Regions from separate parts of the Homo sapiens genome. Here all the other regions are linked to region 2. The links come from fine-mapping of genetic effects on gene expression. A gene starts in region 2. Each other region holds a variant in brackets. All regions are shown on one strand. Distances are between the middles of the regions.

Region 1 (8,181 bases), 61 kb before region 2:
TCAATCGACGGTGAGTCTGTAGCCACAGAACGCAGTGAGTGTTTAGGCTCAGTTACTAACAAACAGACGCCAGTGGGACACTGTTGGTTGCCTTACTTTAATGCTGACCTAGCAGCCCCGACAGGAAGCTTTAACATAAAGCCTTGACCCTGAGAAGCATGGGTGCGTCTTGTCGTGAGCAGGTTCATGGCTGTGCTCCATCCTCAGCCCGCTGATTTTTGGTCTTTTGTCCTTTGATCCAGCAGTTCCCACGTGGATGTTGTACTGCTTCTGTCCTGGAGAAGAAGAGTGAGGTCCAACTCTGAGCAGACACCACGTCATGTGGCACAGGGGGCTGACAGGCGTAATCAGGTTCAGGGTGCCTGTTCCCTCACCGGCCTGTCCTAAAAAGCTTGCCAGGCGCTTAGAAAGGGCCCCACTACCTCCAGCAGAAGGCCAGGAGCTTCAAGGCACCTGCAGGAGGTGGCGGGGGCTGAGCAGGACCCACGTCCCCGTGCTCAGCGTCCCCTGCAGCCAACTTGGCCCCTCCCTCACGGCCCTCCCACCTCATTTTTTATGGGGGTGGGTTTCTCTACTCAGAAGCATGGGCAGGGCGCAGTGGCTCACGCCTGTAATCCTGGCACTTTGGGAGGCTGAGGTGGGAGGATCACCTGAGGTCGGGAGTTTGAGACCAGCCTGACCCACGTGGAGAAAACCTGTCTCTACTAAAAATAAAAAATCAGCCGAGCATGGGAGTGCATGCCTGTAATCCTAGCTACTCAGGAGGCTGAGGCAGGAGAATCGCTTGAACCTGGGAGGCAGAGGCAGAGGTTGTGGTGAGCCGAGATCACGCCATTGCACTCCAGCCTGGGTGACAAGAGTGAAACTCCGTCTCAAAAAAAAAGCATGGTCACGGGGGATGTCTGGGCCTCTGATGGCCCCACGTCCTGTTGACCTACCCGGCTCCTGGGGTGATGTCCCTGACCTTGGTGCGGCACTCACCTTGATGTTGATGCCGTGGGCAGTCAGGCCCCGGCGCAGGGTGTCGCATGCTTCCAGCAGGGGCTGCCTTTCTAGGAGCTGCTGCCGCCGGGCGTCCCCCGTGGCCTCGGGCATGGCCAGCGCAAACTGCCGGACCTTCTGCCGGAACCGCACCAGCTCGTCCACCACACCATGCAAGGTAGCCTCGCTGCCGTCTCCTGAAACGTACTGAAGCCAGCAGGGCGCGGTTACGTCCCCCGGAGACTGTGGATTGTGGATGCCCCCTCCCCACCCCGTGGTTGGGCTCTGGGCCGACACCCACCCAGCCCTGGGCTTCCCTGATTCCCTGCAGCTGGGCCTCTTTCTGGGTCTGGCAGGGATGGGTACAGCCCGCGAGCGCTGGGCTCTGGGCAAGGCTCCACTCAACTCTGAGCATCTGTCGTCCAAGCAAGGCTGAGTGATCCTCACTCGGGAGTTGGAAGAAAGGGCTGGGGGCTGCATGCCGCCCCGCCCTGAACACAAACGCTCCCTGGCTTCCAGACCTCACGCAATTGTGGCCGAGGTATCAGGAGCAACCTGAGGATGAGGCTGGGGGGCAGCGACTGAGCGCTTGCACACGTGTGTTTCGGCAAATGGTCTGAGATTCACAGCCTCAGGTGCTGAGGACGGGATTTGCGCAGAAGGCCTCGCGCTGTCCTCCCACTGAGAACAGATCCTGGGGCGGTGTGGAAGGGGCAGCTGTACCTATTTGTTAAATCCATGTGTGTAAAATAAGAAACAGACACAACATTTGACCTTGGTGTCAAACTACTTAAACCTCACACACCCCTCAGTTATTGCTTCCATGATAAAAGACAGTTTTTGTTATTACAGAAATATGAGCCCAGAGTGGGCCCAGACATTGGGCCTTGCGGCCAGAGGAAGGTGAATGAGATATCTTTGACAAGGGCTAGGCAGAGCTTGGCCAGATCCCACTTTTCTTACTCAAAACAGACTCCGGAAAGCCACCCCTAAAAATGAACATGTACATTGCAAAAACTTGGGTCATCTCACACCAGTCGACTTTTATGTGATTGGCAACAGACGCCGGACTGCTGGAAAGGGGAACTAAGTCTACCAGGTGATCAACAGGTATACAAATGAGCCAAACTTGGAAAAGACACTATAGTTCTCTGTTGAGAGCCAGCGAGACATGTTTGGCCCAGAGCCAGGCCTTCAGCACACCTGCTTGGGCCCCAGTCCCAAGCGGCGGGACCCTCGGGGTGCTGGGCAGCTGGTCTAGAGTGGCAGCCCCCGTCCAGGCAGCAGCAGCCGAGCCACACCCCAAAAGAGCCAGAGCGCCTTGTGCTGAGAATTCTACAAGGGTGTCCAAAGAATGACAGGGATGTTCAGGGACACAGCGCCAGCCCCAAGGGGCCTCTGTCAGCCACATACAAAGTGATGGTGGGGACTTTAAGAATAAGGCAGGAAACCTCAAATCTGTATTGATAGAATAAACGAGTTTCAGGTGAGCCTGATAAGGAAGAGGACATTTTCATAGGATCCAAGTCTCTTTGCAAAAATGCTCTTGAGTTACAACGGAAGAGAAGGAATGTGGAGAAGCCTGGCAGCGTCCACCTTCACTGCACAGCCAGGGTGAGCCTCGCTGGGAAGGTGCAGGTGACTCGTGCCTGTCGGGGAGCCCGTCCTGTCCGTACAAAACATGTGCCAGGCAAGGGGGCTCAGGTCGCCAACTTGCCCTCAAATGGGTCAGGAAAAAATGTTCTCTTACTGTGCCTGTGACTTCTGCACATTCTGAGAGTCTTTGAACATAAACGTGTGTGCAGAGCTGGCGACATTCTGTTGCTGAGATGGACTCATCTCTGGTTCTGCGCACGAGAGTTTGCCAACTGCAGAAGTAGAATTGTGCAATTCCAATTAATAAGTATTGGCTCTGAGTGTGTTTATTTTTCCAGGAAAGTAACATGTTTTTAAACAGGTAAATACATTAGTGTGGCATCATAATGCTCTATTCCAAGTTAAAAGGGTAAAGGTTATTGTCCCAACATGGAGAAAATTCCAGAATTAAGCATTTAAAATAATAGGACCTACCTGTTGATTTGCCAGAGAAATTCCAACAGTTTCAAAAAACTGTTCAAAGTAAGAGATGATGGCACCAAACACAGCAGGACTTCTCGGCCCTTCAGGTTCCTGTAAGAGATCATGTCGCAGAAGCTCCTTAAAAGCAGTCTTGATGGCAGTGGGCAAACGGAATTCAATGTCAAAAGACAAAGGCTTCAGCAGGTCACTTCAGTCTGGCCTTTCTCCTGGCTTCTATGGAGGGAGGACACAGCTCTGGCATCGGCTACCTCACTGCAGACCATACAACTATAGGTGCATGAGGAATCTCTTGTGCCTCAGTTTACCCATCAGTCATGTGGGTGGTGACTAGCTCATCAGGCTTCGCGGGTGAAGCATGACCGTGGAGTATGGCAGGTGGCGCATGGTAGGTGGAGGCTGAGTGGGCACTGGGCTGGGTTTCTCAGAAAACGGGGAAATCCTGGTACGTGGCTCACATCAGTTACCAAGCACAGAGACCCTTGGGTGACACTAGCCTTAGTTTGCAGGTGCCCCAGAATTGCAAAGCTTGGGAAGGAAAAGCGCAGGACAAAAGCCAGCCTCTTTACTTGTCCCGCCCCTTGCCACAAGAGGCCCCTGTTGCCCTAGAGCTGGGCCAGCCTGGTAGTGCCGGCAGCAGCTGCGGTGAAGGCAGGAGGCCGCGGACGGGCTGAGGAGGAGGAGCTCCCGTGCAGGAGCAGCCTGGCTGCGGGACCTGCCCCAGCCCGGCCTGGCTGCCTTCAGTGCGGGGCAGCCTGTTCCTGCAGCCGGCTGTGACTCAAATGCCCGCCCCCCTCAGAGGCGAGCCCTGCGCGTCTGCAGTATTTGGACCGAAGGCACCCGGCAAGGGCACATGGCACCCTGCCCCACCTGCTGGTGCTCTGAAACCCAACACTGCACGCAGCCAGGGATGGAGACCTCCACAGAGATGCTCAACTAACAGAGCATGTGGCCAGAACCC[C/A]CAGGTGTTTCCAGAGGTGGGAGAGGCACAAACAGCCTCGGCTTCCCGGGTCATCAAAGGTCACGGGGCTCCTGACGCAGCGCCTCCCAGGGCCTGGCAGGGGACCCTCAGACGTGCAGGAACCAAAGCCTGCCGCCGCCTTCACGGTCTTTGTCCCACCTGCCAAACACTTGCAGTGACCCACGAGTCCAGGCTCAGACCCCTGGGTGCTTGGTGTGGTCATCACACTGGGGTGCAGATTGCATAACAGTGCCTTGGGGTAAATGGGTCTTTCCTTAAAAAGTTCCCCACAAAAGCTCTCTCTGTGAAAGGGCCATGAATGCAGTGGGGACATGAGATGTGTCCCCTGAGGATCAAGCACACAGAATTTCTCAGCCTCAGGGGCTCCTGAGAGCTTGTTCCCCAGGTGGCCCTGAGGCCCGGGAGGGTCAAGCCCCAGGCTGGGTGCCATCCCGTGTGTCAGCGGCAGACTCGGGCTCCATGAGTTCCTCCACAGAAGCTGCGGGAGGCGAAATCAGCAGAGATGCCACCCAGCCGACATGAGAAAAACCCACCAGAGGACCCGACCCATGCCCCTGGCAGCAGGACCGCAAGGCCACCTGTTCGTTGAGCTACCTTCAGGGACGCCCTGAGCTGTCCATTCCCGTGGTGTGCAAGGCCCAGGATGGCATCAACCACCCTGGGTGTGTCAAAATCATCTGCCAAGGCCGCCTTCACGGCCCTCTTGGTGCTGGAGAGCCTGAGGGAAGAGGAGAGAACAGTCACAGCAGAGGGAGCTCCACTCTCCCCAGGCGGCCCCCACACCAGTCCTTCCCCAGGGAGAGACGCTGGGGGCTCTAATCTGGGGACTTTCTCTAGGTCATATTCCCAAAGACTTGAGTTCCTGAGTAGCAGAAAATTATGTAACATCAACTGCAAACTGTCATGTTACCCCAAGAAAAAGTCCCAGAGCAGAGGTCACCTGTGACACTTAAAATACAAGACACACGTGGGCATTTTCATGATGGTTTTAAAAATCAATAGATATTGAGGGGAGTGGCAAGGAAGACTCGGTGGGGGAGAGACGGCACGGCTGACCACTCACAAAGAGAGGCTGGGGAGGCCCAGCCCGGGGCTCCCGGATCTCAGCCTCCCGTGGCCACTGGCTGCCTACCCTGCTGAAGTGGCAGGGGTGGGTTATCACCAAGACCATCCGGAAGACTCTGCATGCCGGGATGAATGTGCAGCGCTGCCCAGGACACCCGTGGGTGGGGAGTGGAGGCGATGCTGTGGGCCCAGGCCTGTGTGTTTTATAGATTTTGGCTCCTCACAGTCAGGACTGGGAGGGATGAGCAGCTCCGCTCCTCGCACAGGGAACCCGAGCCCAAAGCCACTCTGAGCAGGGGGCTCAGAGCCCGAGGGCCCCAGGCACACTTCCTGCCAGCGCCGTCTCCCTGGGATGTCTCGGGAGCCCCTGACCCCACACCTCCTGTCCAGCACCCAGTGTCCTGTGGCCTCTGGGGAGCCCCTGACCCCACACCTCCTGTCCAGCTCCCAGTCCCCTGTGGCCTCTGGGGAGCCCCTGACCCCACACCTGCACCTCCTGCCCAGCACCCTGTCTCCTGGGGCCTCTCTGGGCAGTCCCTGACCCCAAACCTCCTGTCCAGCGCCCTGTCTCCTGGGGGCCCCTCTTCCCCTTCAAGAGCCCACCAGCAGCACCCAGCAGGCCACAGGAGGGGTGCCACGCCGGGTGCTAGGCGGGCCTCTTACCTCTCCCACAGCATCGCTTCCCTGACGGAGCCGCAGGCCAGCTGCCCCTTCATGTAGGCACGTGCGTCCTCCAGGAAAGAGCCCAGCCCCAGGAGCAGCTGCTGAGCTTGGAGCATGGCGCTGTCACTGTAGTCGATGGCTGAGGAGGAAGAGATGGTCACTGAGGCGGTGCCCACCATGCTGTGCCCCTGCCCTGGTCCAGCAGAATCAGTGTTTTCTGAGGGCACTGCCACCCAGGGACCACACGGAGAGCGGGACATGTGGCTCTCACGCCCTCCAGTGACCGCGAGTCCCTAGGCCCACTGGACACAGACCACAGGGTCTGTCCCAGCTCAGTGGCACCTGCCGTGGGAGAACAAGGTGGCGGTGGAGACATGCTCCCAGTGCTTCCAGCCAAGAGGTGCATTTCCACTGACTGGATGGAGGTGCGGATGAATGGCTGGCTCTGGAAAGAAGGAGCCCCGCCCTGGATGGATGGAGGTGCGGATGAATGGCTAGCTCTGGAAAGAGGGAGCCCCGCCCTGGGGTCAGAGGCACCTCTAGGGAAGGCCCTCCCGAGGGAAAGTGCCTGTGTGTGATGGGACAGCCCAAAGAGGGAGGGAGGAGCAGTCCCCAGACCTGGCTTTAGAGTCTGTGGGTGTTTCTTAGGCCACCTGGATGAGGGGCCAGTGTTTCTGTTTACATCTGTTCATTTCTTGTGGTTTCTAGTCTACTGCATTCTGATGGGTAAGACAACAGGAGTGAATCGCTTTGCAATGATCACATATCCTTGGATATCAGCAAAGCCAGCCACATATTTCTAGAACCTTCTCGTGCCTACTCTGTTTCCCAGGCTGTCTGAGTCCACAGTCCATGCTTTTGAGGAGTGCTGCTTTAAACAGCTCTTTGAAAACCACAAGAATAAAAAGAGCCTATCTGGACACATATGCTGAAAATTACATCTCAACATGCCTCCAAGTCCTGACTTCAAAACGAGAATTCCAAAATCAGACATGGCTTCAAGCTGGAAGCAACACAGTGAAAACCTCCCCCAGGGCTGTCTAATATCTTACTTAACATTTTTCCTTTTTTTCTAAATTCACTTTCAGTTTTTGCTTTGAATAGCTTGATAGAAAAGAGAAAAAGCCAGAAACCCACAAAGCGATCTGACAAAATTTAAAGATAATATTCGGGGACTGATAGAGTTGATGCATGGGAGGCTGTTAGAATAAGATTACCATTAATGACACAGCAAGATGAGGCATCCAGATGGGGAGGGGCAGACAGATGCCCAGGATGGAGACGCCTTCTGCCTCAAGGTCAAGGACAGCTGCATTTCTCCAAAGAGGATTCTGCTCTACAGATGGGAGACACTTCTCCAAAGTGTCAGCGCAGCACAGACTGCAAGGGATGCCACCACCGTCCCCCTCCATCTTCCCAAAGGTGAAGAAAGAATGTCTGGGAAGATCCCGAACTCCCACACCATTCGTGGATGGAAGCTCAGACAGCAAGCGACGGCCCAGCTCCTCAAGGCCACCTCCGACCTCGGCGGGGTGGGGCAGTCGTGTCCACTGTGGGGATCCACGTCCTGACTAACCTTGTGTTCCTAGAAATCCCTCACTGGCAGATCGGTGCCTCCTGAATCCCACCCAAAATTCCCACTGGGAATGTGTTCCTGAAAGAGCTGCCCAGGCTTGAGAAAGCCTCTTTTCAGACCAAACTTCGTATTCAAAGCTCAAAAAGAACTGCACACAATTAGGACAGTCATACAAGATGCTGCCCCTAATCCTGCCACAATCTGCGAGAAGGGAGGCGGGGCTTCCGAGGGCAAAGTGCCCCTGGGAAGGGATCCGCAGGGAACAGCTTTGAAAGGACCACAGCCCCCAGCCACGAGGGGAGCAAGCACGAGCCGGGAAGAGAGCTCTGCGCTCGCACACGGGATTCATCTCCGCCGCCTCTGCCCGTTTCCAGCAACACGGAGCCAGGCGGAAACAGTTTCTCCAGCCCATTCGCCTCCCCGACTCTTCCTCTCACGGCACGGCTGGGCTGCTTTCATCACGCGTAAGTGCACACCACACACAGATGCTGCACGAGGCCAGGCGAGCACGAGGCTGGCCACACTTCTTTCTCAAGCTCGTGCGCCCGTGAGCGCAGGTCCCCTGGGCCGATGCACTGCAGTTCCACCCAGGGGAGAGGTTCAGACCACGTCTCAGAAAACCTGAGTTTGCAGTAGAAAGCCAACGACGTGGCGTCAGAGCCAGGATAAAGACATGGCCCAAGGTAGCCTTTCGGTGGTCAAAGGTGCAGGTGTCTGTGTGCCCCTCTCACGCTGACAGGAGCTGCAGGCCGGGTGAAATTCTGCAGGCACAGCACAGGGGAGGGAGATGGATAGGGGACCAGCCCAGGGGCTCACCCAAACCCACCAAAGCTTTGTG
Region 2 (8,181 bases):
ATAAATTTGGCAAAATCCCACCACCTAACAGGACTGCTGTCCAGCCTTACCGCCTGTGCAGCATGAATTCTAAAAACACAAGCTATTATTACCATTCTCATCACCATGCTCCTTCATTCACCTCAAGTTGGGAAAGAGTCTAAAAGATGTGAGATTTACAAGAAAAAAATTACAGGAACCTAAAGCAAATGAAAACAAGAGTCAAGTCCCTTGCTTGGCCCAGAGGAGCCCAGGCTGAGTCCCGGAACTGCCCTTGGAGACAGCAGAGGCTCCACAGCTTGGCAGAGCTGGCGGAATGCAGGGTCATGAGCAATTTGAGACCCTGAGACGCTGCAGGCAGGCTGTGACCACAGGGGCCACTCTATACACAAACACGCACACACACGCCTTGCAAGTGCCGGGCAGCCAAGTCTGAAGAACATGGCATCAGGAGACCTCAGCTTGCTTCTGTGACTCCACCATGAACCATGCTACCGTCAGCCCGGCTCTTTCTGCCCCATTTTCTCCATCCACTGGGTGAGTGTGCTCATCTGGGTGATCGCTGAAATGATTCATTTGCTAAGAGTCTTCCCTCAAAACGCTCCAGTGTGACTCCGTCTACCATGGCATGAAATCCAAACTCTCTGGGCCAGACCACGCAGCACCCTCCCCAGTCTGGCTGCAACTGACGCCCCATCCCTTCCCCTGCTCCTCCCCCCTAGCACCAAACTGATCTATTTGTTTTCCCCAAACAGGGTTTCCATCCCTCTGACCTCTTCTGGAAATGGTGGAGGCTATTTTTCAGGGTGTCTCTTTCCAGTGAACTGAGTGCTACCCATTGCTCAAATTCTACCTTTCTGCAGCAGGCACTGTGTGCATCCCTGTCCTGCTGGAGCTGAAATAATTACATCATGCTAACGACATCAGATGGTTGCATAAATAACCACTGAAGGAGTACAATGCTAGGAGAGCTGAGATGGGGAGAGGGAGGTGGGGCAGGCCAGCCCAGCAAAGGCCTGGAGGGGTTGGCCAGGCTGACAGGAAGGTGGTCAACAGGAGAGTCCCAAGCTCCCACCAGCCCCTGGGAAGGCCCTGTGTGGACACAGCTTATAACATGCATTCAGCTGCGCACTTAAGATGTGTATTCTTTTCTGTAGTCATAAAGGTAAATATTATACAAATTTAAACTGCAAGACTTGACTCTCCTAGTTGGAAATGAGAAGAGATTCTCTCCCCAACAACTTTTAGGATTTCTTCCTCAGTCCTCTTCAAATGCATGTCAATCTTTTAAATGGCTAAATAAACCTCTTGGCAGTTTTACAACTCAAGAAAATTTCAAAACCTGGGACCCACCTCTGAAATGTAATCAAGGAAAATAACGCCCCGTTTCCCAGTGTCCTGGGAGGAGATGGGCCTACCTTGTCATCTGACTCCACACTGTAACTCACCTGAAGCAATGGGTTATGCTATGGTCTGAATGTTTGTCTTCCCTCCAAATTCATGGTTGAAACCCTAACTCCCAAGGTGACGGTTTTAGGAGGTGGAGCCTCTGGGAGTGACAAAGTCATGGAGGCAGAGAGCTCATGACTGGGGTTAATGCCCTCATAGAAGAGACCTCAGAGAATTCCCTCTACCTTCTACCATGTGAGGACACAGCAGGCAGACCCTCAACAGACACCAAATTTGCTGGTGCCTTCATCTTGGACTTCCTAGCCCCAGAAAGAAAGAAATTTCTGTTGTTTATAAGTCATCCATTTTAGGATATTTTGTTACAGCAGACTCATAGACTGAGACAGGCTGTATCCCCAAAGCTCCATAGAAGGATGAGATTTCTTTCTGTCTTTGCAGTTATTTTAGCTCATCCCCTTCTGGTTTAAGGCTTATTCAGTAACAGAACTGTTTTCTTTCTCTTCTACCTTTGTGGAAAGGTTTTCCAGGGTGGGGGTTTTGTTTTTAATATTTCCCCAACATATTTTATAATTCAAGAAAGATGTCGAAATATGCTTTTGATAATTAAAAGTATGTTAGCCCAAAGTAAAGGGGAAAAATGTATATTTAAAGTATACAGAGTATGCCGGGCATGGTGGTTCATGCCTGTAATCCCAACACTTTGGGAGGCCAAGGCAGGTGGATCATTTGAGGTCAGGAGTTCGAGACCAGCCTGGCTGACATGGTGAAACTCCGTCTCTACTAAAAATACAAAAATTAGCCGGGCGTGGTGGTACATGCCTGTAATCCCAGCTACTCCGGAGGCTGAGGCAGGAGAATTGCTGCCAGGAGGCGGCAACTGGACCTGGGAGGCAGAGGTTGCAGTGAGCCGAGATTGCACCACTGCACTCCAGCCTGGGCGACAGAGCGACTCCGTCTCAAGAAAAAAAAAAAGTATACAGAGTAAATGTAACTTTTTACTTTTAGTCTAGGACTGAACAATACTAAGTTTTAAAAAATCTATAATATGTCATTTTTGTACATTATATTTTGGAAATGTACAAAATATTAGGAAAAGTGGTAATTTTGGCAAATGTAGGAGGCAGTACATCTTACAGTTAAAGAGGTCAAGAGAGCAACCACTTCGCAGTCAGAGAAACCAAGCCTCACCCCAGTTCCAATACCTCTTCAATGTGTCATCTTAGGAAAGTTACTCAATCACTATTGAGCCCCGTGACATCTCACATGTGAGGTACAGTGTTAAGCAGCATTTTATGGGCATTATTTACTAAAATTGTTATAAGATCCAAGTTATCATTCCCATCTCAAAGATGAAGAAACCAGGACTCAAAGCAATAAAGTGACCTGCTCAGTGCTGTGAAGCTAAGAAGTGGTGGGGCCCAGGAATGACTGATCAGCAGGACCCCGGGACCCCGCAAAGGCCTCTTGATGTCACTAAACCCAGCAAAAAACATCTAGTTCCAAAACGGGTCATTTTTCAGTGCTCCATTGTCTCCCTGAGTTTCCTCACCTGTAAAACGGGTGTAAGTGCTCAGAATCCCTATAAGAACCAAATGAGGTTGTAACATTTCCCACAATGCCTGGAATGTAGGAATTATTCTGCATCCCTAAGTTGCCACTTAAGAGATAAAAGAAATCAGCAAAAGGCTTTCAAAAATAAATGGTCCTTTGAAGTATGAAAATTCAAATCCAGGAAACTCACCAAGCATGGCCAAGGTGCGCATGATCATATACAGTTGGTCCACAGCTATACCTGGAAACAAAGTTAAAATCCATCGTGTGGAACATATTTGCAAGAAAGGACATTCGATTCTGAGTTATAATGATCATATAATTTTTAAAGTAATCACTTCTGGGGGATGAATAGCCGGGGTTTTCATACTTGCTCAATTCACACCCAAACCTGCAAAAGCACCGCGCACCCCCAGCTTCTAGAACGGCGCCCTCCATGCAGCTTCCTAAACGCCCTCCCCGAGCCCAGATCCCGTTCAGCCGTGGGAAGTCTCCGCCACGATCGGCCCCCGCCCGTGCCCCAGTCCCGCGCGGCCCACCAGGAGGCGGCTTCGGCGTGCGCCACGATTAGGGGTTCCTTCCTCCCGGTGAGGCTGTTGTACACCTGCACACCCGTCTCCCGGCCCGTGGGCTGCAGCCAGGCCCGCCCGCGCCCCCCGCTCGCCGCCCGGCCCGCAGGCCAGTGCCACCCAGCCCGCCCAAGGCCCAGCGCGGCCTGGAGCAGCGGGGGGCCCAGGCCTGGGCCGCGCGTAGTCCTCAACATGTCAGCGGCCAGCGCCTACGACTGGGCGGAGACGGGAGCCACGCCGGGTACGCTGCCGGTCGCTCAAGAGCAGCACGGCCCCGCCCCGCCCCGCCCACGCCCTTGGGGCCACGCCCACTCCCGGAAGCAGTCCTCAGGTAGCGCCTCCCTTTGGCCTGGCTCGAGTCGCCCGCGGCAAGGGTGGAGAACCAGGGCCCGAAGAGGTTGGGGCGGGGAAGGCCCGGGGTGGAGGGAGGAGGGCGGTGCCGCGCCGGGAGGCCGTGGGAAGAGGCGGTACCGTGCCGATCTCCTCTCCTTATTAGCCCAGGTCCTGCGAGGCGTCCGTGTGCGCGCGGTACCAGCCTGGAGCTGTGTCCGCCGCGCGGGAGGAGCGTTTACAGTGCAAGCTTCTGTTGCCGGGCCCTGGCCTGTTAGCGAAGCACGTGTGCATCCCAGCACAGCCCACGTCAGCACGCTAATACACAGTGTCCACCCCAGAACACACGTCAGCACCCCAATACAGTGTGCACCCCAATACAGTGTGCACCCCAAACACACATCTGCGCCCCAATACAGTGTGCACTGCAGCACACCGTTAGCATCCCAACACAGTGCACCCCGATACACAATGTGCAACCCAACACACAGTCTGCACCCCAAGAAGTGTGCACCCCAATACACAGTATGCACCCCAGCACACACATCAGCATCCCAATACAGTGTGCACCCCAATACAGTGTGCACCCCAGCACACACATCTGCACCCCAATAGTGTGCACTGCAGCACACCATCAGCATCCCAACACAGTGCACCCCGATACACAGTGTGCAACCCAGCATACAGTCTGCACCCCAATACACAGTATGCACCCTAGCACACACCACATCAGCATCCCAATACAGTGTGCACTCCAATACAGTGTGCACCCCAGCACACACCATGTCTGCACCCCAGTACAGTGTACACCCCAATACAGTGTGCACCCCTAATACACTGTGCACTCTAACACACACCATGTCTGCACCCCAGTACAGTGTGCACCCCAACACAGCACATGTGCATCCCAGCAAACACTGTCTGCATTCCAATGCAATGTGCACCTCAATAGAGTGTGCGCCCCCACACATCTACACCCCAATACAGTGTGCACCCCAATACACAGTGTGCAACCCAACACACACCATGTCTGCACTCCAATACACAGCATGCCTCCCCCACCATGATCCCGTATCTTGAGAACAAAAACATTCTGAAAGTTACTCACAATAGCTTGACAAACGTGCCTCTATTGGGCCAGGCGCAGTGGCTCACACCTGTAATCCCAGCACTTTGGGAGGCTGAGGCGGATGGATCACCTGAGGTCAGGAGTTCGAGACCAGCCTGACCAATATGGTGAAACCCCGTCTCTACTAAAAATACACAAATTAGCCGGGCGTGGTGGCGTGCATCTGTAGTCCCAGCTACTGGGGAGGCTGAGACAAGAGAATCGCTTGAACCCAGGAGGCAGAGCTCACAGTGAGCTGAGGTCACACCACTGCACTGCAGCCTGGGCAACAGAGGGAGACTCCGCCTGAAAAAAAAAAAAAGTGCCTCTATTGGTGTCTTGCAATACGATGTCTCAAAAAAAAGAAAAAGTCCCCTTTGCTTTTCCAGTTCTCAAAACAGGAGACGTTCCTCTGGTTTTTTGTTGTTGTTTTTAGTTTGCTTTGGTGTTTTATTAAAAAGCAAAGGTTTAAGTAGAGACAAACAAGTGTGTACCTAGAGTAGTTTCTCAATATCCTGGAGTCCAACTCTGCAATTCTGTTTCAAGCTAACTGTAGTCTAATGTAATCTATTGTCTAATTTAATAAGGTTAAAATGTTAGAATTAGGAGACCCTATAGCCTACATCAATGCTAACCACTCATGTTACCTAACTACTCTAAATTCTCCTGAATATTATCACTTCTTGCCTGCCTTATGTTATTTTGTAACTTTCCAGTGCTGTGTGTATATTTATCTCCCTGAGTATCTTAAATTGTACATTATTTTGAACTTCTCACTGTGCCCTGCACTAAATTCAGAAAAGGACTTGGGTTTTGTTTGTTTTGTTTTGCTGTGGCTGGAAAAAAAAAATTTAGAAGAAATAAAAGGGCTTGTTGAATGTTGATGAATTAATCCCTTACGAAAGGGATTAATTGTGCAGGTGGGAAGAAATCTGGGTAGTAAAATACCTGATAAAGCTGATTCAGATATTAGATGTGCCAGTAAATAAAGCAAATTAACAAAAAGCTCAGTTGCAATCTGTGAGAACACACGAATTCAAGGAAATAACTGGAGCAGAGATTCTGAAAGCAGCTTAGTAACACTGAAGATCAAATCTGCACATGAATCTGGACATGCGGTATATTTGAATTGTTCATAGAACATCACAACTTTTAAATTAACAATAGTATCTTCTGTCTTCAGAAAATTCATGTAATGTTTTTAGCCCCTCACTGGCAGTGATTCTATTATGTTTTCTTTTTTTTTTTTGAGGCAGTCTTGCTCTGTCACCCAGGCTGGAGTGCAGTGGCCTGATCTGGGTTCACTGCAGCCTCTGCCTCCTGGTTCAAGCAATCCTCCTGCTTCAGCCTCCACAGTAGCTGAGATTACAAGTGCACACCACCGTGCCCAGCTAATTTTTGCATTTTTATTTTTATTTTTATGTATTTATTTTTGAGACAGAGTCTCACTCTATCACCCAGGCTGGAGTGCAGTGGCACGATCTCGGCTCACTGCAACCTCCACCTCCCAGATTCAAGTGATTCTTCTGCCTCAGCCTCCCGAGTAGCTGGGATTACAGGTGCGTGCCACCACGCTCAGCTAATTTTTGTATTTTTAGTAGAGATGGGGTTTCATCATGTTGGCCAGGCTGGTCTGGGACTCTGGAACTCCTGACCTCAAGTGATCCAGCCACCTCAGCCTCCCAAAGCGGTGGGAATACCGGCCTAAGCCACCACACCTGGCCAATTCTCTTTTCTCTTTTTTCTTTTTTTTTTTTTTGAGATGGAGTTTCACTCTTGTTGCCCAGGCTGGAGTGCAATGGCGTGATCTCCTGGGTTCAAGCGATTCTCCTGCCTCTTTCTCACGTCTCCCGGGTTCAAGCAATTCTCCTGCTTGTCTCCTGAGTAGCTGGGATTACAGGCATGTGCCACCATGCCCAGCTAATTTTGTATTTTTAGTACAGATGGGGTTTCTCCATGTTAGTCAGGCTGGTCTTGAACTCCCGACCCCAGGTGATCCGCCCACCTCGGTCTCTGAAAGTGCTGGGATTACAGGCATGAGCCACCGTGCCCGGCAGCTAATTCTGTTTTCTTAAGGCTTTTGCGGATCATCAAAACAAGGAGAAACATAGCTCATTACCTAATGATGGTTAGAAATGTGATCTTTTTGCATATTGAATATCTGCAGGTTGAATATTAAGGTAAAGTAAAATAGACTGCTAATGCTCTTCATTACTATACCTCCCAGCCTACATCTTTCTCCTGTGCTGGGTGCTTCCTGCCCTCGAACATCAGACTCCAAGTTCTTCAGTTTTGGGACTCAGACTGGCTCTCCTTGCTCCTCAGCTTGCGGACAGTCTATTGTGGGACCTTGTGATTATGTAAGTTAGTACTTAATAAACATATATATGTATATACATTATATATATCTATATCTCCATCCTATTAGTTCTGTCCCTCTAGAGAACCCTGACTAATACACCATATATACATAAAAAGAGGATCCATTTAATTGAAGTCACCTCCCTCTCCAATCTAGGTCAGAACGAGGAAGTGTGTTAAAGTTAATGATTCCAAAATATCACTAATGCCATTTCTCAGTCCTTAATGACAACAATAACAAAATCAAGTTCTCAGTATTACATTTTCTTTCAAGGCAAAATCTTGTAAATCAGAAGTAGAGTTGATTACGGTAGCATATGGTTTAGGGGTTTTCAAGTTTAAGATGAATGAGTTTGCATTTATTTTTTAAGCACTTTGAAACTTAAACAATTCTATGCTTGGCCAGGCGCGGTGGTTCACGCCTGTAATCCCAGCACTTTGGGAGGCCAAGACAGGCGGATCACCTGAGGTCAGGAGTTCGAGACCAGCCTGGGCCAACATGACAAAACTCCGTCTCTACTAAAAATACAAAAATTAGTTGGGCATGGCGTCCGGCACCCGTAATCCCAGCTACTCAGGAGGCTGAGGCAGGAGAATCGCTTGAACCCGGGAGGCGGAGGTTGCAGTGAGCTGAGATCACGCCACTGCACTCCAGTCTGGGTGACAAGAGCAAGACTCCGTCTCAAAAAAAGAAAAAGAATTATATGTTCATCTCTTATATCTGACTCTCATAGGTTTGAGCATTTTCAGTTAGACTGGAAATATAATTTTAGAAAAAAGTTTAATTTTAAATGTTTCTTTTTAATCCATTTGAAATTTCTGTTCTACGGAAAAGTTTTAACATCCATTTTTGCAACACGCCACAGGAAACAA
Region 3 (8,181 bases), 40 kb after region 2:
AGAAATAGTTTTTGAATTCTGGGACTCAAGTAAGAAGGAAACAAAAACAAATGCTTTTATCTGTGTTCACAAAAGTACACATGTATTAGTCCATTCTCACACTGCTAATAAAGACATACCTGAGACTGGGTGATTTATAAAGGAAAGGGTTTTATTGACTCACAGTTCCACATTGCTGGGAAGGCCTCAGGAAACTTACAATCATGGCAGAAGGGGAAGCAAACATGCCCTTCTAGCAGGATGGAGAAATGCAGAGCAAAGGTTGGGGGAAAGCCTCTTATAAAAACCATCAGAGCTCATGAGAACTCACTTTCACAAGAACAGCATGAGGGTAACAGCCCTCATGATTCAATTACCTCTCACCAGCTCCCTCCCACTACACATGGGAATTATGGGAACTACAAGATGAGATTTGGGTGGGGACATAGCCAAACCATATCATTCTGCCCCTTGCCCCTCCCAAATCTCATGTCCTCACATTTCAAAGCACAATCATGCCTTCCCAACAGTCCCCCAAAGTCTTAGCTAATTCCAGCATTCACCCAAAAGTCCAAGTCCAAAGTCTCAACTAAGACAAGGCATGTCCCTTCTACCTATGAGCTTGTAAAATCAAAGCAATTTAGTTACTTCCTAGACACAATCAGGGTATAGGCATTAGGTAGATACACCCATTCCAAAGAGAGAAACTGGCCAAAACAAAGGGGCTACAGGCCCCACGCAAGTCCGAAATCCAATTGGGCAGTCATTAAACCTTAAAGTCCCAAAATGATCTCCTTTGATTCCATGTCTCACATCCAGACCCTGCTGATGCAAGAGGTAGGCTCCCATGGCCTTGGGCAGCTCTGCCTTGGTGGCTTTGCACAGCCCCCTCCTAGCTGCTTTCATGACCTGATGTTGAGTGTCTGCGGCTTTTCCAGGTGCATGGTGCAAGCTGCTGGTGGATCTACTATTCTGGGGTATGGAGGAGAGTGGCCCTCTTCTCACAGCTCCATTAGGCAGTGCCCCAGTGCGGACTCTGTGTGGGGGCTCCAATCCCACATTTCCCTTCTGCACTGCTCTAGCAGAGGTTCTCTATTAGGGCTCCACTCCTGCAGCAAACTTCTGCCTGGACATTCAGGTGTTTCCATACATCCTCTGAAATCTAGGTGGAGGTTCCCAAACCTCAGTTCTTGACTTTTGTGTACCCACAGGCCCAACACCATATGTAAGCCACCCAGGCTTGGGGCTTACATCCTCTGAAGCAATGGCCCAAGCTGTACATTGTCCCCTTTTAGCCACAGCTGGCACTGAAGCAGTTGGGACTTAGGGCACCAAGTCCCTAGGCTGCACAGAGCAGAGGGGCCCTGGGCCCAGCCCATGAAACCATTTTTGCCTCCTAGGCCTCGAGGCCTGTGATGAGAGGGACTGCTGTGAAGTCTCTGACATGCCATGGAAGCATTTTCCACATTGTCTTGGTGATTAACATTCAACTCCTCATTACTTATGCAAATTTCTGCAGCTGGCTTGAATTTCCTCCCAGAAAATTGTTTTTTCTTTTCCAGCACATCATCAGGCTGCAAATTTTCCAAACTTTTTTGCTCTGCTTCCTTTTGTGTGCTTTACTGCTTAGGAATTTCTTCTGCCAGACACCCTAAATCATCTCTCTCAAGTTCAAAGTTCCACAGATCTCTATGGCAGGGGCAAAATGCTGCCAGTCTCTTAGCTCAAACATAGCAAGAGTCACCTTTATTTCAGTTCCCAAAAAGTTCCTCATCTCCATTAGAGACCACCTTAGTCTGGACTTTATTGTCCGTATCACTATCAGCATTTTGGTCAAAGCCATCCATCAGGTCTCTAGGAAGTTCCAAACTTTCCCATATCTTCTTTTCTTCTTCTGAGCCCTCAAAACTGTTCCAGCCTCTGCCTGTTACCCAGTTTCAAAGTCATTTCCACATTTTTGGGTATCTTTATAGTATTGCCCCACTACCCAGAACCAATTTACTCTATTAGTCCATTTTCATGCTGCTAATAAAGACATTCCTGAGACTGGGTAATTTATAAAAGAAAGAGGTTTAATTGACTCACAGTTCAGCATGGCTGGGGAGGCCTCAGAAAATACAATCATGGCAGAAGGGGAAGCAAACACACCTTTCTTTACATTGCGGCAAGAAGGAGAAGTGCAGAGCCAAGAGGGGGAAAAGCCCCTTATAAAACCATCAGATCTTGTGATAACTCATTATCATGAGAACAGCATGAGGGTAACTGCCCCCTTGATTCAATTACCTTCCTCTGGGTCCCTCCCATGACATGTGGGGATTATGGAAACTAAAATTCAAGATGAAATTTGAGTGGGGACACAGCCAAATCATATCAATACTTCACCAAATTGCTATAAATTATAGATAGTTTAAGAGAGAAAATTTTCTTAAATCCGTGAAAGAAAGCATTTCAGTAGAGAACAATGTTTCAAATAACACTCATAAAAGCATTATCTTCATCAGTTATTCAATCTCATGTAGTCAACTTTTGTTCTGCTTGATCTCCATTAGTTTCATGAGTTCTTCGCCTCTTTATTAAAATTCTGGAAATCTTTATTTATCTTAGGTGTGGCAGAAACCTGTATTTAACAGTACTTGCTGGAGTCTTTTCCACAAATCTGATTATAAAATTTTTTGAGAAGAATTTTCTTTTTTTATTTTTTTTTTGAGACAGAATCTTGCTCTGTCTCCCAGGCTAGAGTGCGGTGGCATGATATCAGTTCACTGCAACCTTTGCCTCCTGGGTTCAAGCGATTCTCCAGCCTTAGCCTCTTGAGTAGCTGGGATTGCAGGTGTGTGCCACTACACCTGGCTAATTTTTCTATTTTTAGTAGAGATGGGGTTTTGTCATGTTGGCCAGGTTGGTCTTGAACTCCTGACCTTGGGTGATCCACCCACCTTGGCCTCCCAAAGTGCTGGGATTACAGGTGTGAGCCACCACACCCAGCCGAGAAGAATTTTAAAGAATAACTGTGGATGACAAAAACTTAGAGTAGTCATGGTTAAAAATCTGATAAACATAATCAACAAGGAAATTTAGTTATTTCTATTACGTATAGTATTTCAAGATAACCAGAATTATGACTGATAGCATATTAGATTTCTATGACTATGTAATTTTAGAAACATATAAACAGCATACCTGTAAATGTAACTAAAAGATCTAGTATCATGTATTATTTGACAATGTTTTTCACACAATTTACCAAATAAGCCTAATCATTTAATATCTCTACAAGATGAGAAATATATCTTTCAAAGCTTTCCACAGGTCTGACTGGAAAATCTCAGAGTTAATTCAAGGTGAAAAAAACTTAAGTTAGGAGTTGATATTAGGGACATTTGTCAAAGATGTCAAAAGGTGCAAAACAGGTCATGCATAGTGGCTCACGCCTGCAATCCCAGCATTTTTGGAGGCAAAGGCGGGCAGATCACTTGAGCCTGGGAGTTTGAGACCAGCTTGGGCAACATAATGAAACCCTGTCTCTACAAATAACCAAAAAATTAGCCTGGTGTGGTGGTACATATCTGTGGTCCCAGCTACTAGGGAGGCCGAGGTGGGAAGGTCACCTGAGCCCAGGAATTTGAGGCTACATTGAGCCATGATTGTGCCACCGCACTCTGGCCTGGGTGACAAAGTGGGACCCTGTCTCAAAAAGGAAAAAAAAAAAAAGGCCCAAAACACTTGATCAAAACAGAATCAGAGGTCACTATAAAATAATAGTCATTCATTTAACCAGAGTGACAACTGAAAGACTTCAAAAGCAATATGGAAAGTTACACGATTGTAAAAATATTAACCCTTCCAAGCTCACTTTTCCTAAGTAATCAAAAACCTACAAAAGGCAACACAGGAAATTATCTTGGTAAAGCATAAAATCTTTGTTTCTTAGGTCAGCTACCAAAAAGGCAAAGAACCTTGCACAGTGTGATGATTTCTCGTTACAGAAAGTTCATTTAGATAACCTGGAGGTCAAACCTGATAAAAAAAAAAGGGTGCTTGAATTTAATTAGACAGAGGAAAAATGTGTTCAAGATTATGAGTGTACACTACATCATAAAGGAATGTAAACAAGAAAACTAGCAGCTTAAGCAGAGGAATATATGGCTTTTAGTAACAGCATGGGAAGTTTCTTGGTTACATGGAACAATTCAGACATATTAAGAAAAGCCAGGAGTACAGAATCAAGTTATGCTAAACAAAACATTGCTTTTCTAGGTCTTCAGGGTAAACATTTCAGTGTCAGGCAGCAGAGTTAGAACAGAGGGGGATAAAGTTACAGGAGTGTGCAAGAAAGTTGAAGGAAAGAGTTATAATCCTAGGACTTTTCAAGGGGAGAGTAAGTTGGAGGCAATGATATATGACTGCAAATTATGTGCAGCAAATACAGCAAAAGTTAGACTTCTGAGATACACATTTGAAAAATCTCTAAAACAAAACTCTAGCTCAAGAAAAAATTATGTTAAATGAAGAGGACAGCATTTTAAATCTAAAACTAGGGAAATGAATCTCAAAAAGCAGATGGCTGTTAAAGAAACAGATTTTTAAAATTAAAAATCAAAACCTCTTGCAATTTAATTCACAGCAGATCAATACTTTCAGAAAACTTTCATTTGAAATATAGAGGTATAGACTCTGGTCCTGTGTCACGGTGCCGTGGACACCAATGTGGAACTTTTAGAAAAATACATAATTTATTTCCAATCCCAGACAATCTGATTACACATGTAACTTACTTCATTAGGCCCATCTTTTATAAATCCTCTTTGACTTGTTTAGACCTTTTATCACTTTCTTAAAACTTCCAGTCTTAGTCCCATAATTTTATTTTTAAACAACAAATTATTTTGTCATAGGACAAAGATTTACCACATAAAATTCTCATGCAAAATTATTTTTTCCTAAATTCATATTTTAATTAATAGATCTAAATATATTTACTTTTTATAAAATTTAAGAAGCCAAAAATGACGTTTTGTTTATTT[A/T]GCAATTTGTTTCAGTTTTAAGAAATCTTATTTAGCTACAATCCAGATATTTAATGTGCATTATTTAATTTTACATAACATAATTTTAACATTTACATGAAAAGTTTATTTATAAACATTTATTTTTATTTACAATCATCTAATTTCTTTGTTTTTAACAGTTACATTTTATGGGTGCTCTAGTTTAATGCCAAATACACAAAGCCAATTAAATGTAGCACTGAATATGCAGAGGCCAACTGAATGCAAGTGCAGATGGAAAATAAAGTGTGTACCTCCCAGGAAGGACGATAGGCCTTCTCCAAATGAAGGACAAAATCCCCTCATCCAAACCTTGGAGCTGAGGTCAACAGGAGGAAAATAACTTTCCCCAAGAGGAGATCTTTCCAACAGGAGTGGGACAAACCCTCCCAACCAAATCACGAATAAAATGGAACTCGAACAAAATGGAGGGGGAGAAGAGGCCACTTGCAGATGCAGCGGGGTTCAAAAGGCTCCACTGTGGGCACCTCACACCGCTGTTCCAAGAACCAGTAATTCTTCCCGAGGTGAGTCAGCTTTGGATTTTACTAATGACGCTGTGTATGATAAAGTCAAATAAAATCTGTAGAGAAAAATCTCTAAATTTAACATTTTATTTGGGATATGAGAATTGCCATTTGGGGCATATACACACAGACCAGGTGGTCTTTGGGATGTCCAAAGAATAAAGTTGAGGTTGGAGATTTTATAAAAAGGAGAAATGCTATGTATTACTCTTTGATCATTGGCACTTGTTAAGTTTTGGGGAGCTGGCAAGTTCTGATGGTGAGTGACAGCAGTGGGTAAAACTAGTCTTAGAGGTGCAGCACGTTGTTTCAGAAGTTATCAGGTAAAACTGGTTTCAGGTTACAGCAGAAGTTCAGCAGCCAGGCATGCGAAGGGTTCAATTCTCGGAGCAATGCTGTGTGGGCTTAGAGCTGCCCCCCGGGCTTCTTGACTCTGGGTTAGTTGGGCATGACAGGAATGACCCAATTCATAAGAACCACTTTCCCAGTTGCATATATTAATTCAGAATAGATGATTGCTGGGTGGTTCAATTTCTTGCATGTCTGAACTTATTCTCCTCCATTAAAAAATATATTCCTTCTGGAATTCCTCTTCCTATTTTCTTGTTTAATTCCTATTTTCTTTCTTTCAGGGCTTGCTATGTTACCCAGTTATTTACTGTTTCATATACATTGTATGTTTTTTTCTTCTTCCAGGTTTGTCCCATAATTCTTCGGGCCTCTCTCAAGCCTTCGAGTGGATGCTGTTTCATATTTCATCCAGCCTGGGAGTTGGAGACCTGAGCTGCATTACCTAAGCCACTGTTAGCAGAAGCCAATAATAATAATAATAATAATGATAATTCTTTTTTGTTTAACTTATCTTTTATATCTTCTCTTATTACTGCTCTATATATTCCGGAAGATTTCTCCAATTATATTTTCCATATCCCCTACTTGTTCTTCACCGTTACCTACTGTAATATTATAACTTGAAGAAATTTTTTAAAACAACAAATAGAGACAGGATCTCGCGCTTTTGCCCAGGCTGGAGTGCAATGGTGTGATCATAGCTCATTGCAGCCTTGAACTCCTGGGCTTAAGCAATCCTTCCACCTCAGCCTCCCAAGTAGCTGGCATACGCCACCATGCTCGGCCAATATTTTATTTTAAAATTTTTTGTAGAGACAGGGTTTCACCGTGTTGCCCAGGCTGGTATCAAACTCTTGGTCTCAAGTCATCTTTCCACCTTGGCCTCCCAAAATGCTGGTATTACAGGCATGAGCCACTGCACCTGGCCAACTTTTACTTTTATTTTATTTTATTTTTTAAATGGAGTCTTGCTCTGTCACTCAGGCTGGAATGCAGTGGCCAGTCTTGGCTCACTGCAACCTTTGCCCTCTGGGTCCAAGCAATTTTCCTGCCTCAGCCTCCCAAGTAGCTGGGACTACAGGCATGTGCCACCACGCCCACTAATTTTTGTATTTTTAGTAGACAGGGTTTCGCCATGTTGACCAGGCTGGTCTCGAACCCCTAACCTCAAGTGATCTGCCAGCCTCTGCCTCCCAAAGTGCTGGGATTACAGGCATGAGCCACCATGCCCGGCAGCTTTTACATTTTTAATGTAAAATGTAAAATGGCTGCACCTGGCCAGCTTTTACATTTTTAATGATGTAAATGTAATGAAGGATTTATTATTATATATTGCATTATAAATGTAATGAGAGATGTATTCGAGGAGTTTTGGGGAGAAATCTGGTGTCTTTCTAATCTTGCCTTGGCTATGTTCCTTTGTAGGTGTTTGAAGTTAACATGCTTTATTTGTTCTCTGTTAAGATGCTGCACCCGCACTATGAGTCTCCGCATACAGGTGGCTCACTTTTTTCTATGAATTAATTGAAACATATCAGAGGTAGAGGAAGTAATGTGTTAAACAGCATATGTCTTCCACCTAACTCAGAAATACAAGTTTACAGATTTAATGTGGTCAAATTTATTTATAGTTTGTGCTCTTTTGTCTTACATGAGAAATGTTTTTTTCCACATTCAAAAAAAAAATCTTGATATTTAGATATTTTGCCGTCTTTTCTTTCTTTCCTTCCTTCCTTCGTTTCTTTCTTTCCTCTATTCCTCTCTTTTCTTTTCTTTCTTTCAGGGCTTGCTATGTCACCTGGTTATTGACTGTTTTATATACATTTTTGAATCTCTTATCATAGTCCATGAAAAGCCCTGTCGAGATTTTACCTGCAATTGCATTCAATGTACACATAAATTGGACAAACATTCTTAACACATAATGTCTGTTAATTTACTTTGGTCTTCTATTAATTTTCTAGATCCCTCCTGCCCCCGCAATAGACTAGTACATATTTTGTTAGCTTTGTTCCTAGAGTCTTATGTTTTACCTTTTCAAAATTAACATATTTGGCCGGGAGTGGTGACTCATGCCTGTAATCCCAGCACTTTGGGAGGCCGAGACGGGTGGATCGCTTGAGCTCAGGAGTTCAAGACCAGCCTGGGAAACATGGCAAAAACCCATCTCCACAAAAAAAAAAAAAATTAGCCAGGTATGGTGGCACACGCCCGTGGTCCCAGCTACTTGCAAGGCTGAGGTCAGAGGATGGAGCCATAGTTATAGAGACATTGTTATA

What was found. PIP is the estimated chance that this variant, and not a neighbour inherited with it, causes the effect.
Region 1: its variant is fine-mapped to the expression of CARS2 in whole blood (INTERVAL, PIP above 0.99).
Region 3: its variant is fine-mapped to the expression of CARS2 in whole blood (TOPMed, PIP 0.98). The same link has a PIP of 0.9 or more in lung and prefrontal cortex.

Annotation. Positions count from the first base shown.
Region 1 is chr13:110,641,334-110,649,514 of GRCh38, forward strand. It overlaps CARS2 (cysteinyl-tRNA synthetase 2, mitochondrial), which reads right to left. Exons shown (of 15, transcript NM_024537.4): 11 at 5,768-5,906; 12 at 4,634-4,757; 13 at 3,052-3,150; 14 at 982-1,188; 15 at 84-275. The coding sequence ends at 204. Among named protein-coding and RNA genes, the nearest start is that of NAXD-AS1, 29 kb to the left of the region's middle. RefSeq lists an enhancer at 7,755-8,181. The variant C/A (reference allele first, on the strand shown) is at 4,019.
Region 2 is chr13:110,702,391-110,710,571 of GRCh38, forward strand. It overlaps CARS2 (cysteinyl-tRNA synthetase 2, mitochondrial), which reads right to left and starts at 3,726. Exons shown (of 15, transcript NM_024537.4): 1 at 3,480-3,726; 2 at 3,131-3,181. The coding sequence starts at 3,703. RefSeq lists a silencer at 3,534-4,093 and enhancers at 4,144-4,523, 4,534-4,653.
Region 3 is chr13:110,742,547-110,750,727 of GRCh38, forward strand. No RefSeq gene overlaps it. Among named protein-coding and RNA genes, the nearest start is that of ING1, 33 kb to the left of the region's middle. The variant A/T (reference allele first, on the strand shown) is at 5,004.